2 separate regions of the Homo sapiens genome follow, and region 2 is reported to be linked to region 1. Evidence: microRNA targets listed by miRTarBase, many of them from high-throughput screens and not tested one by one. Region 1 holds a microRNA gene; the other region holds the end of a gene's coding sequence.

Evidence for each region. Region 1 holds the annotated microRNA hsa-miR-320d (AAAAGCUGGGUUGAGAGGA, at 2,062-2,080, shown strand). A microRNA usually pairs through its seed, bases 2 to 8, with sites in the 3' UTR of a target mRNA and lowers its output. Matches are read on the target gene's strand: a 7mer-m8 pairs with bases 2 to 8, a 7mer-A1 pairs with bases 2 to 7 and ends in A, and an 8mer does both.
Region 2: miRTarBase lists CKS1B as a target of hsa-miR-320d. Seed matches in the 3' UTR shown: 7mer-A1 at 1,006-1,012.

Annotation. Positions count from the first base shown.
Region 1 is chr13:40,724,735-40,729,907 of GRCh38, reverse strand. MIR320D1 (microRNA 320d-1) reads left to right here and starts at 2,021; the gene lies at 2,021-2,092. It overlaps MRPS31 (mitochondrial ribosomal protein S31), which reads left to right. Exons shown (of 7, transcript NM_005830.4): 7 at 307-780. The coding sequence ends at 536.
Region 2 is chr1:154,977,799-154,982,798 of GRCh38, forward strand. CKS1B (CDC28 protein kinase regulatory subunit 1B) reads left to right here. Exons shown (of 3, transcript NM_001826.3): 2 at 189-316; 3 at 927-1,453. The coding sequence ends at 979. Among named protein-coding and RNA genes, the nearest start is that of FLAD1, 3.0 kb to the right of the region's middle. RefSeq lists enhancers at 3,601-4,198, 4,799-5,000.

The DNA of each region.
Region 1 (5,173 bases):
AAATAAAAAAATTAGCTGGGCGTGGTGGTACATGCCTGTAGTCCCAGCTACTCGGGAGGCTGAGGCAGGAGAATCGCATGAAACCCAGAAGGCAGAGGTTGCAGTGAGCTGAGATCGTGCCACTCCACTTCAACCTGAGCAACAGAGCAAGACTCCATCTCAAAAAAAAAAAAAAAATGCAACCTAGGTCTAACTCCAAAGTTCATGCCTTAAACTGTAATATTATATTACCTCATTAATATTATTTTTATGATGTAGGTTTTGTATTTAAAATTATAATGTAATGTATTTGGTCTCATTTCCTAGGTTTTGATGATGATGGTTCAGAATTTCATGAACATATATTTCTGGAGAAACACCTGGAGAGCTTTCCAAAACAAGGACCAATTCGCCACTTCATGGAGCTGGTGACTTGTGGCCTTTCCAAAAACCCATATCTTAGTGTTAAACAGAAGGTTGAACACATAGAGTGGTTTAGAAATTATTTTAATGAAAAAAAGGATATTCTAAAAGAAAGTAACATACAGTTCAATTAAGACCATGGAAATTTTTATTTCAAACAATTAGAGATGGATATTACAACTAAATAAAATAATTTTACTAGAGTTTGTATATGTTATGTTGATTATTACATTTGATTTGGCTGGTATAAATGTTACATTGTTTTCAAAAATATGATGGTAACTGAAAAATATTCTTGCATGGAGAAAAATCATCAGTATTCATAGGTTCAAAAGAATATCTGGGAATTAGTAATACATTTAAGACAACAACTCCTAACCTTTTTCTTTTCACTCGGTGACCATACTTCTTTGAAATACAATACAATTACTGGATGATATCACAGTACTATGTTATAAGAGTTGAGATGATTTATAGACAGATATATATGTACATACGTTTATTTGTTTACATTTATACATATATTTTACACTAAATTAACTACCCTCACCTAAGTCTGGGTCACTATAGAGAAATTAATCTTGTAGAAATAAAGGGTTTATTCTAATCCATTCTAGTACTTTAGGTCTTCATGCCAAAGTTAGAATTATTTCTTTTCCATTATGCTGCTGAGCAGCGTGACTCAACTTTCATACAATTCAAAGGATTGAGGGCTGGGCACAGTGGCTCATGCATATAATCCCAGCACTTTGAGAGGCCGAGGCAGGAAGATCACTTAAACCAACGAGTTTGAGACCAGCGTGGGCAACATAGGGAGACCCTGTCTCTACAAAAAATTAAAAAATTAGCCGGGCGTGGTAGCATGCACCTGTAGTCACAGCTCTTCAGGGGCCTGAGGTGGGAGCATCCCCTGATCCTAGGAGGTTAAGGCTTCAGTGAGCTCTGATTACACCACTATGGTCTAGCCTGAGTGATAGAGCAACTCTGTCTCAAGAAAAAAAATTTTTTTTTTTTATTCTTTTTTAGCAGAGCCTTGCTCTGTCACCCAGGCTGGAGTGTAGCGGCGTGATCTCGGCTCACTGCAACCTCCACCTCCAGGGTTCAAGCAATTCTCCTGCTTCAGCCCCTCAAGTAGCTGGTATTACAGGTGCCCACCACCACACCCAGCTAATTTTTTTGTATTTTCAGTAGAGACGGGGTTTCACCATGTTAGCCAGGCTGGTTTTGAACTCCTGACCTCAAGTGATCTGCCTGCCTTGGCCTCCCAAAGCTCTAGGATTACAGATGTGAGCCATGGCACCTGGCCTAAATTTTTTTTAAGGTTCAAGGATTCTAAAAAAACTCAAAACAAGATTTAGTTGACAGTGGTCCCAAGCTAATAGTGTTCCAGGTCAACAGGAACCGTGTGAAGGAATCCACCATAACAACAGCCTTCAAATGACAAAACACACAAGGAAGCAAAACCATGAATGTGTACCAGCAGAAACGAGAACAGAATCAGACTCATAAAGCCTCTGAATATTGGGCTTATCAGAGTCAGAATATAAAATATGTGTAAGATAGAATGAATATTGAGCAGGATGCTTTAAAAGTGACCAAGCAGATTTGAAAAACATTAAAAATGTTGGCCTTCTCGTCCCAGTTCTTCCCAAAGTTGAGAAAAGCTGGGTTGAGAGGATGAAAAGAAAAAAAAAGAAAAATTTAGTGGAGTTTAACAGCAGTAAAGAAGTATCCATATGCAGCAGAGAGAAGCAAAGAGGAAAGAAATAGGAAAGGAAAGTAAAAGAGTAACATTTGTACAATCGTATTGCCAATAGGAAAGAAAAGAGAAAATAGGTCAGAGGCTAACTCTAAATAATTGTTTTTTTTTTTTCATTTTTTTAATTGAGACAGAGCCTCGCTCTGTTGCCCAGGCTGGAGTGCAGTGGCATGATCTCAGCTCACTGCAACCTCCGCCTCCCAGGTTCAAGCGATCCTCTTGCCTCAGCACCCCCTAGTAGCTGGGATTACAGGCACGTGCCAACATGCCTCGCTCATTTTTTTTTTTTTTTCTGAGATGGAGTCTCACTCTGTTGCCCAGGCTGGAGTGCAGTGGCGCAATCTGGGCTCACTGCAAGCTCCGCCTCCTGGGTTCACACCATTCTCCTGCCTCAGCCTCCCGAGTAGCTGGGACTGCAGGCGCCCACCACCACGCCTGGCTAATTTTTTTGTATTTTTAGTAGAGACAGGGTTTCACCGTGTTAGCCAGGATGGTCTCAATCTCCTGACCTCATGATCCGCCCCCCTCGGCCTCCCAAAGTGCCGGGATTACAGGCATGAGCCACTGCGCCCGGCCATGCCTGGCTAATTTTTGTATTTTTAGTCGAGACGGGGTTTCGCCATGTTGGCCAGGCTGGTCTTGAACTCCTGACCTCAGATGATCCACCCACCTCAGTCTCCCAAAGTGCTGGATTACAGGTGTGAGCCACCGTGCCTAGCCTCTAAATAGTTAATGGGTGAGAGTTTTTTACAATTCATGAAAGATACTAATTCACAGTTAATCAACAATCCCTTGGCCAGGTGTGGTGGCTCATGCCTGTAATCCCAGCATTTTGGGAGGCAAAGGTGGGCAGATCACTTGAGGCCAGGAGTTTGAGACCAGCCTGGCCAACATGGCGAAGCCCCATGCCCGGCTAAAAATATAAAATGTAGCCGGGCATGGCGGTACATGCCTATAGTCCCAGCTACTTGGGAGGCTGAGGCATGAGAATTGCTTGAACCCAGGAGGTGAAGGGTGCAGTGAGCCAAGATCACCCCACTGCACACCAGCCTGGGTGACAGAGTGAGACTCTGTCTCAGAAAGAAAAAGGCAAAAACAACAATCTGTTGGTCATGTATAGAAACTGCTCCCAATAACAGCAGAATACATTTTTTTTTCCAGTACACATGAGACACTGAAAATTTTTTATTTTTATTTGGGTGTTTAGTTTGTTTATATTTACCACAGTTACTGATATATTTGGAATGTCTTTCAGAAATGAGGGCTAAATGCATTTGTCAAACAAAAACAGTTGGCTACCAGCAAACTTTCATTAAAAGACTCCTAAAGTTGTACGTCAGGCAGAAGAGAAATGATTTTAAATTTAAGGCCTGAGATGCAAGAAGAAAATGGCAGATGAATAAAGCAGTGAGTATGCTGCTGGCTCACTCTCTTTCAGCAGTGTGCTCTGCCTCAGTGTTCAGAGTATGTCTTTATAAACTCTCTGCTCTCTATTGCCCTTCAATAAGCTGTCTGCTATTAAAAAAAAAAGTAGTGAATATATATTTTAATTCTAAGCACTAATAAAACAGTCATACCATATGGAATTAATTAAAATACATGACAGTAGAATATGTCCAAGTGGATTATTTATTTATTTATTTATATTTTTATTTATTTATTGAGACAGCTTCGCTCTTTTTGCCCAGGCCAGAGTGCAGTGACACGATCTAGGCTCATCACAACCTCCGCCTCCCAGGTTCCAGCAATTCTTCTGCCTCAGCCTCCCGAGTAGTTGGGATTACAGGCACACACCACCACGCCTGGCTAATTTTTTATTTTTATTAGAGAAGGGATTTCACCTTGTTGGCCAGGCTGGTCATGAACTCCTGACCTCCAGTAATCCACCTGCCTCGGCCTCCCAAAGTGCTGGAATTACAGGTGTGAGCCACTGCACCTGGCTGGGTTTTTTTAAATGTCAAGTGATAACACTATTTACTGGAGTTATATGTAAAGCAAGAATACAGAAAGGTTGAAAGTAAAAGGTAAGCTGGTATAGCTATATTAATATCAGGAAAAAAATAGTCTGAAAGACATTAGAAACTTAAAAAAATTCTGTTTATCAGAAAAATACAAAGTTGTACATACCTAATAACATGACTCAAAATATACAAGGCAAAAGCTGATAGAAATACAAATAAATATACCATTATGATAAAATATTTTAACGTAATAATTGATGAACTCAGCAGACAAACAGAAGCTTTGCTATACCTAATTATCTTGACCTAATGGAAATTTGTAGACCATTACACAGTGATCTAAATAGCTGCAAATACATTTATTTCAAGCACACATGTTGATAAATCAATCATAAACTTAGTCATAAAGCATATCTAGACACATTTCAATGGAATGTAGAACATGTTTTCCAATTACATTGCAAGTAAGTTAGAGACCAGTAACTGAACGCTAATCAGGAAAACTCCCTATGTTGAGAAATTTTAAAACCCTTTTAACTTATTCATAGGCCAGTGAAAAAAATATTCAGGCCAGGCGCGGTGGCTCACGCCTGTAATCCCAGCACTTTGGAAGGCCGAGGCAGGCAGATCACCTGAAATCAGGAGTTCAAGACCAGCCTGGCCAACATGGTGAAACTTTGTCCCTACTAAAAAATACAAAAATTACCCGGGTGTGGTGGCACATGCCTGTAGTCCCAGCTACTTGGGAGGCTGAGGCAGGACAATCGCTTGAACCTGGGAGGTGGAAGTTGCAGTGAGCCGAGATTGCGTCACTGCACTCCAGCCTGGGCGACAGAATGAGACTCCATCTCAAAAAGAAAAAAAGAATGAAAATCAATGAAGTAAGGTTATAATCTTAAGATATAAGAAAAGGAACAAGTGGTGTTTTTTTTTTTTTTTTTAAATCTGTTCTGTTGTTGTTGGTGGTGGTTTTTTTTTGAGACAGAGTCTTGCCCAGGCTGGAGTGCAGTGGCACATGGCTCACTGCCGCCTTGACCTGGGCTCAAGTGAT
Region 2 (5,000 bases), not on the chromosome of region 1:
AATATACTCTCGGAATTTATATAACATAGCCTGTATTTCTAGCTGCTGCTACCCCACAATAAAATTATATAAACTCTGACATCAAAAACCAGTTTTTCTTTCCTTTCTTGGCCTTGTAAACAGGCATTTGTCTAAGAGACTGTATCTGGTACTAACATAAATTCCCCACTTCCCCGTTTCTGTTACAGACATGTCATGCTGCCCAAGGACATAGCCAAGCTGGTCCCTAAAACCCATCTGATGTCTGAATCTGAATGGAGGAATCTTGGCGTTCAGCAGAGTCAGGGATGGGTCCATTATATGATCCATGAACCAGGTCAGTGCACTGGCTAAAAACAACCATATAGAACTGCTACACTGAGAGAATGAAAGAATAAGATTGTATAACCCAAATAGGGAGATAGGAAATGGTTTACTGGTTCCTTCCCCCTCCAGTCGTGGGGGATTTTTTTAAAAAAAAACTAGTGACCAAAAATAAGACTAAAATATCTGGGAAGTTCAGAGACAACCTGTCACTGAAAAACCTCCTGTAATCTTTCATTCAATCAGAGGGTATTCTTTTTAAGGCCACATATAGCCTGATCATAGCCCCTGCCTCATTCTCCATCGAAAACATTCTTGGATGTGTTCTAAATAAGCAAAGGAAAGTATATTTATTGATAAGACACCAGACACCCAGCTGCCAGGCAAAACTAATAAGGGACACCCTGGGGCTGTATAAACATAGCAAAAGAACTGATATTAACAATTCTGTACTTGGCAGACAGTCCAGACTTCTGGGTCTGCTTCTAAGGCCATATGCTTAAGTCTTTATTTAGTTATAAAGATCTGAGTGGGTGATAGCTGGGGAGGTGGTAGTGGAATACACTATAGGTTGTACATAGAATGGTGTGAGCTTGTCTCTTAGATTTCCCTCACTCTTTCAGAACCTCACATCTTGCTGTTCCGGCGCCCACTACCCAAGAAACCAAAGAAATGAAGCTGGCAAGCTACTTTTCAGCCTCAAGCTTTACACAGCTGTCCTTACTTCCTAACATCTTTCTGATAACATTATTATGTTGCCTTCTTGTTTCTCACTTTGATATTTAAAAGATGTTCAATACACTGTTTGAATGTGCTGGTAACTGCTTTGCTTCTTGAGTAGAGCCACCACCACCATAGCCCAGCCAGATGAGTGCTCTGTGGACCCACAGCCTAAGCTGAGTGTGACCCCAGAAGCCACGATGTGCTCTGTATCCAGAACACACTTGGCAGATGGAGGAAGCATCTGAGTTTGAGACCATGGCTGTTACAGGGATCATGTAAACTTGCTGTTTTTGTTTTTTCCTGCCGGGTGTTGTATGTGTGGTGACTTGCGGATTTATGTTTCAGTGTACTGGAAACTTTCCATTTTATTCAAGAAATCTGTTCATGTTAAAAGCCTTGATTAAAGAGGAAGTTTTTATAATCTAGTGCTGTAATTGTACGGGTTTTTTCCCCCTCACTCAGGGTGAGCATCATCAATATCATGGTTCTAATTATATGCCCTTCAGTTTGATAATGAAGCTCAGCTCTTTGCTGATAATGAGGTTTAACATTGAGATAACTGGTTTTTAATCTACTTTAAGCAGACTTGCTGTCAAACATCTACTGAAATATATTTCACTCTAACTACTAGCCTGAGGTAGAGGTTATATAGGGACAACTTCATCTCATCCAAACAAATGAACTGCTTCCTACAGTCGGGGTGCTGCCTTTAACATAGTCCCAATATTTGAATGGCACACATGGATAAAAGGATGCTGTCAGTCAGGGGCTGCTTGTGTGTCCCAATTCCTAATAGGAATAATAGGCATATCTATGACCTATTCACTGTGCCCCTTGGTTGGGGAAGGTTTTCAGCTGTTCTTAACTTGGCTTGGGCGTTGGAATCACCTGGGGAGCTTTACAAGTACTGATGCCTGCCTGAGTCATTCTTAAGGATTCTTAATTGGTCTGGAGTGTGGACTGGGGGTAAAGATTTCAGGCATCTTATGCAGGTAGGTAAAGAACTAAGCTTTGAGAAAACAGGTGCAAAATGTAGCTGTTTAAGAAAACATTCCAGGCCACACGTGGTGGCTCACACCTGTAATCCCAGCATTTTGGGAGGCTAAGGAGGGCAGATCACTTGAGGTCAGGAGTTCGAGACCAGCCTGGCCAACATGGTGAAACTCCCGTCTCTATTAAAAATACAAAAATTAGGCTGGGTGCAGTGGCTCATGCCTGTAATCCCAGCACTTTGGGAGGCTGAGGTGGGTGGATCACCTGAGGTCAGAAGTTTGAAACCAGCCTGGCCAACATGGTGAAACCCCATCTCTACTAAAACAAAATTAGCCGGGCGTGGTGGCACACGCCTGTAATCCCAGCTACTCCGGAGGCTGAGGCAGGAGAATCACTTGAACCTGGGAGGCAGAGGTTGCAGTGAGCTGAGATCACGCTATTGCACTTCAGCTTGGGCAACAAGAGTGAAACTCTGTCTCAAAAAAATAAAAATAAATTAGCCGGGCGTGGTGTGTGCCTGTAATCCCTGCTACTCAGGAGGCTGAGGTGAGAGGATCGCTTGAACCCGAGAGGCAGAGGTGAAAGTGAGCCAAGATCACACCACTGCACTCAGCCTGGGCGACAGAAGCTGTGTCTCAATTTAAAAAAAAAACATTCCACAGAATAATAACTTCCCCTCTAGTCTAACAAAACAGTAGTACTAAGTGGCCGGGCGTCGTGGCTCACGCCTGTAATCACAGCACTTTGGGAGGCCGAGGCTGGCGGATCATGAGGTCAGGAGATCGAGACCATCCTGGCTAACATGGTGAAACCCTGTCTCTACTAAAAATACAAAAAAATTAGCTGGGCAAGGCGGTGGGCGCCTGTAGTCCCAGCTACTCGGGAGGCTAAGGCAGGAGAATGGCGTGAACTCGGGAGGCGGAGCTTGCAGTGAGCCGAGATTGCGCCACTGCACTCCAGCCTAGGCGACAGAGCCAGACTCCGCCTCAAAAAAAAAAGAAAAAAAAATACTAGTACTAAGTAAGGATATTAATCTCCCCCATTTTTCCTGTCTTCCATCCACTTATTCCTAAAATAGCAGGCATCAACATCGGGAAAATTCATTAGAAATGCAAATTATTGGGCAACAACCTAGACCTACTGAATCCTAAACTCAGGATTGGGCACAGCAATGTTTTAACAAGCTCTCCAGCTGATTCTGATGTACACTTAAGCTTGAGAATCCACTAGGAAAATACTGGAACAGTCTTGGTATTCTGTTTTGGGAGGGGATCAAATATCACCTGTATTGCTAATAAAGATATTGGAACATGTGGTTTACTAGGCAAGTGGAATTCTTGTTTTGCCCTTTTTTTTTTTTTCAAAGAGCTGACTTTTTATAATTGAAAGAAATGAGGGCCAAGTACGGGGGCTCACACCTGTAATCCCAATACTTTGGGAGGCCAAGGCAGGGAATCACTTGAGCCCAGGAGTTCAAGACCAGCCTGCGCAACATGACCAAACTCCGTCTCTACTAAAAATACAAAAATTAGCCAGGCATGGTGGGGCGCCCCTGTGGTCCCAGTTACTCTGGAGTCTGAGATGGGAGGATCACTTGAGCCCAGGAGGTCGAGGCTGCAGTGAACGGTGCTTGCGCCACTGCACTCGAGCCTGGGCAACAGAGAGACCCTGGTTCAAAAAAAAAAAAGGGAGGGGGGGCTTATTACTTAAAAGAATGGTCTAGACACCTGATCACCTGGGTCCACCATTCACTGTGTTTTGTGGTTGTGTGGCATCCCTTCACCTTTCTGAGCCTGTTCCTCATCTGTAAAATGAGCATGATGTGTATCTTACAGGGTATTTTTTTTCTTTTTGATGGAGCCTCGTTCTGTCGCCCAGGCTGGAGTGCAGTGACACAATCTCGGCTCACTGCAAGCTGCGCCTCCCGGGTTCACGCCATTCTCCTGCCTCAGCCTCCTGAGTAGCTGGGACTACAGGCTCCCGCCACCACGCCCGGCTAATTTTTTGTGTTTTTAGTAGAGACGGGGTTTCTCCATGTTGATCAGGCTGGTCTCCAGCTCCTGACCTCAGGTGATCCGCCCGCCTCGGCCTCCCAAAGTGCTGGGATTACAGGCGTGAGTCACCGCGCCCGGCCTTTTTTTCTTTTTTTCAATTGAGAGAACTCAAGCAATCCTCCCTCCTCAGACTCCCAAAGTGCTGCGCCCGACCAAGGGTTTTGAAGAGTAAAATTTGGCAAGGTGTGGTTTACCAGTCCTACAAAGAATGAATTCGGCCCGGCGCGGTGGCTCACGCCTGTAATCACAGCACTTTGGGAGGCCGAGGCGGGCGGATCACGAGGTCAGGAGATCGAGACCATGCTGGCTAACACAGTGAAACCCCGTCTCTACTAAAAAAAAAATGAAAATAAAAAAATTTTTAAAAAAAAGCCGGGCATGGTGGCGGGCGCCTGTAGTCCCAGCTACTCGGGAGGCTGAGGCAGGAGAATGGCGTGAACCCGGGAGGCGGAGCTTGCAGTGAGCCGAGATCGCGCCACTGCACTCCAGCCTGGGTGACAGAGGGAGACTCCGTCTCAAAAAAACAAAGAATGAATTCGGGCCCTTACCATTCAAAATGTAGTCCATAGAGCAGTGGGATCACCATCACATGGGAACTAGCTAAATGCAGATCTCAGGCCCCACCCAAACCTACTGAATCAATCTGCATATGAAAAGATCCCCAGATTATTGTTGGAAAAAAGTTTAAGATGTACTTTTAGAACAAAGGCAACTGAAATGGGGGTAAGCTCGGATGATGTGAGGATCCAGAGTAAACATGTAAGGCACTCCCTATTCGCTGCCTCATTTGCACCTACAAGACCAATTACTGGGAAAGGTCATTTGAACTAAGCACCATCTGGAGCAAGGTGGAGGAAGAGAGGGTTTTTGGACTCTTTCTTGTCAAAGAGATTTAAGTAATTCGTTTTGTCTACTATACTAGAGATA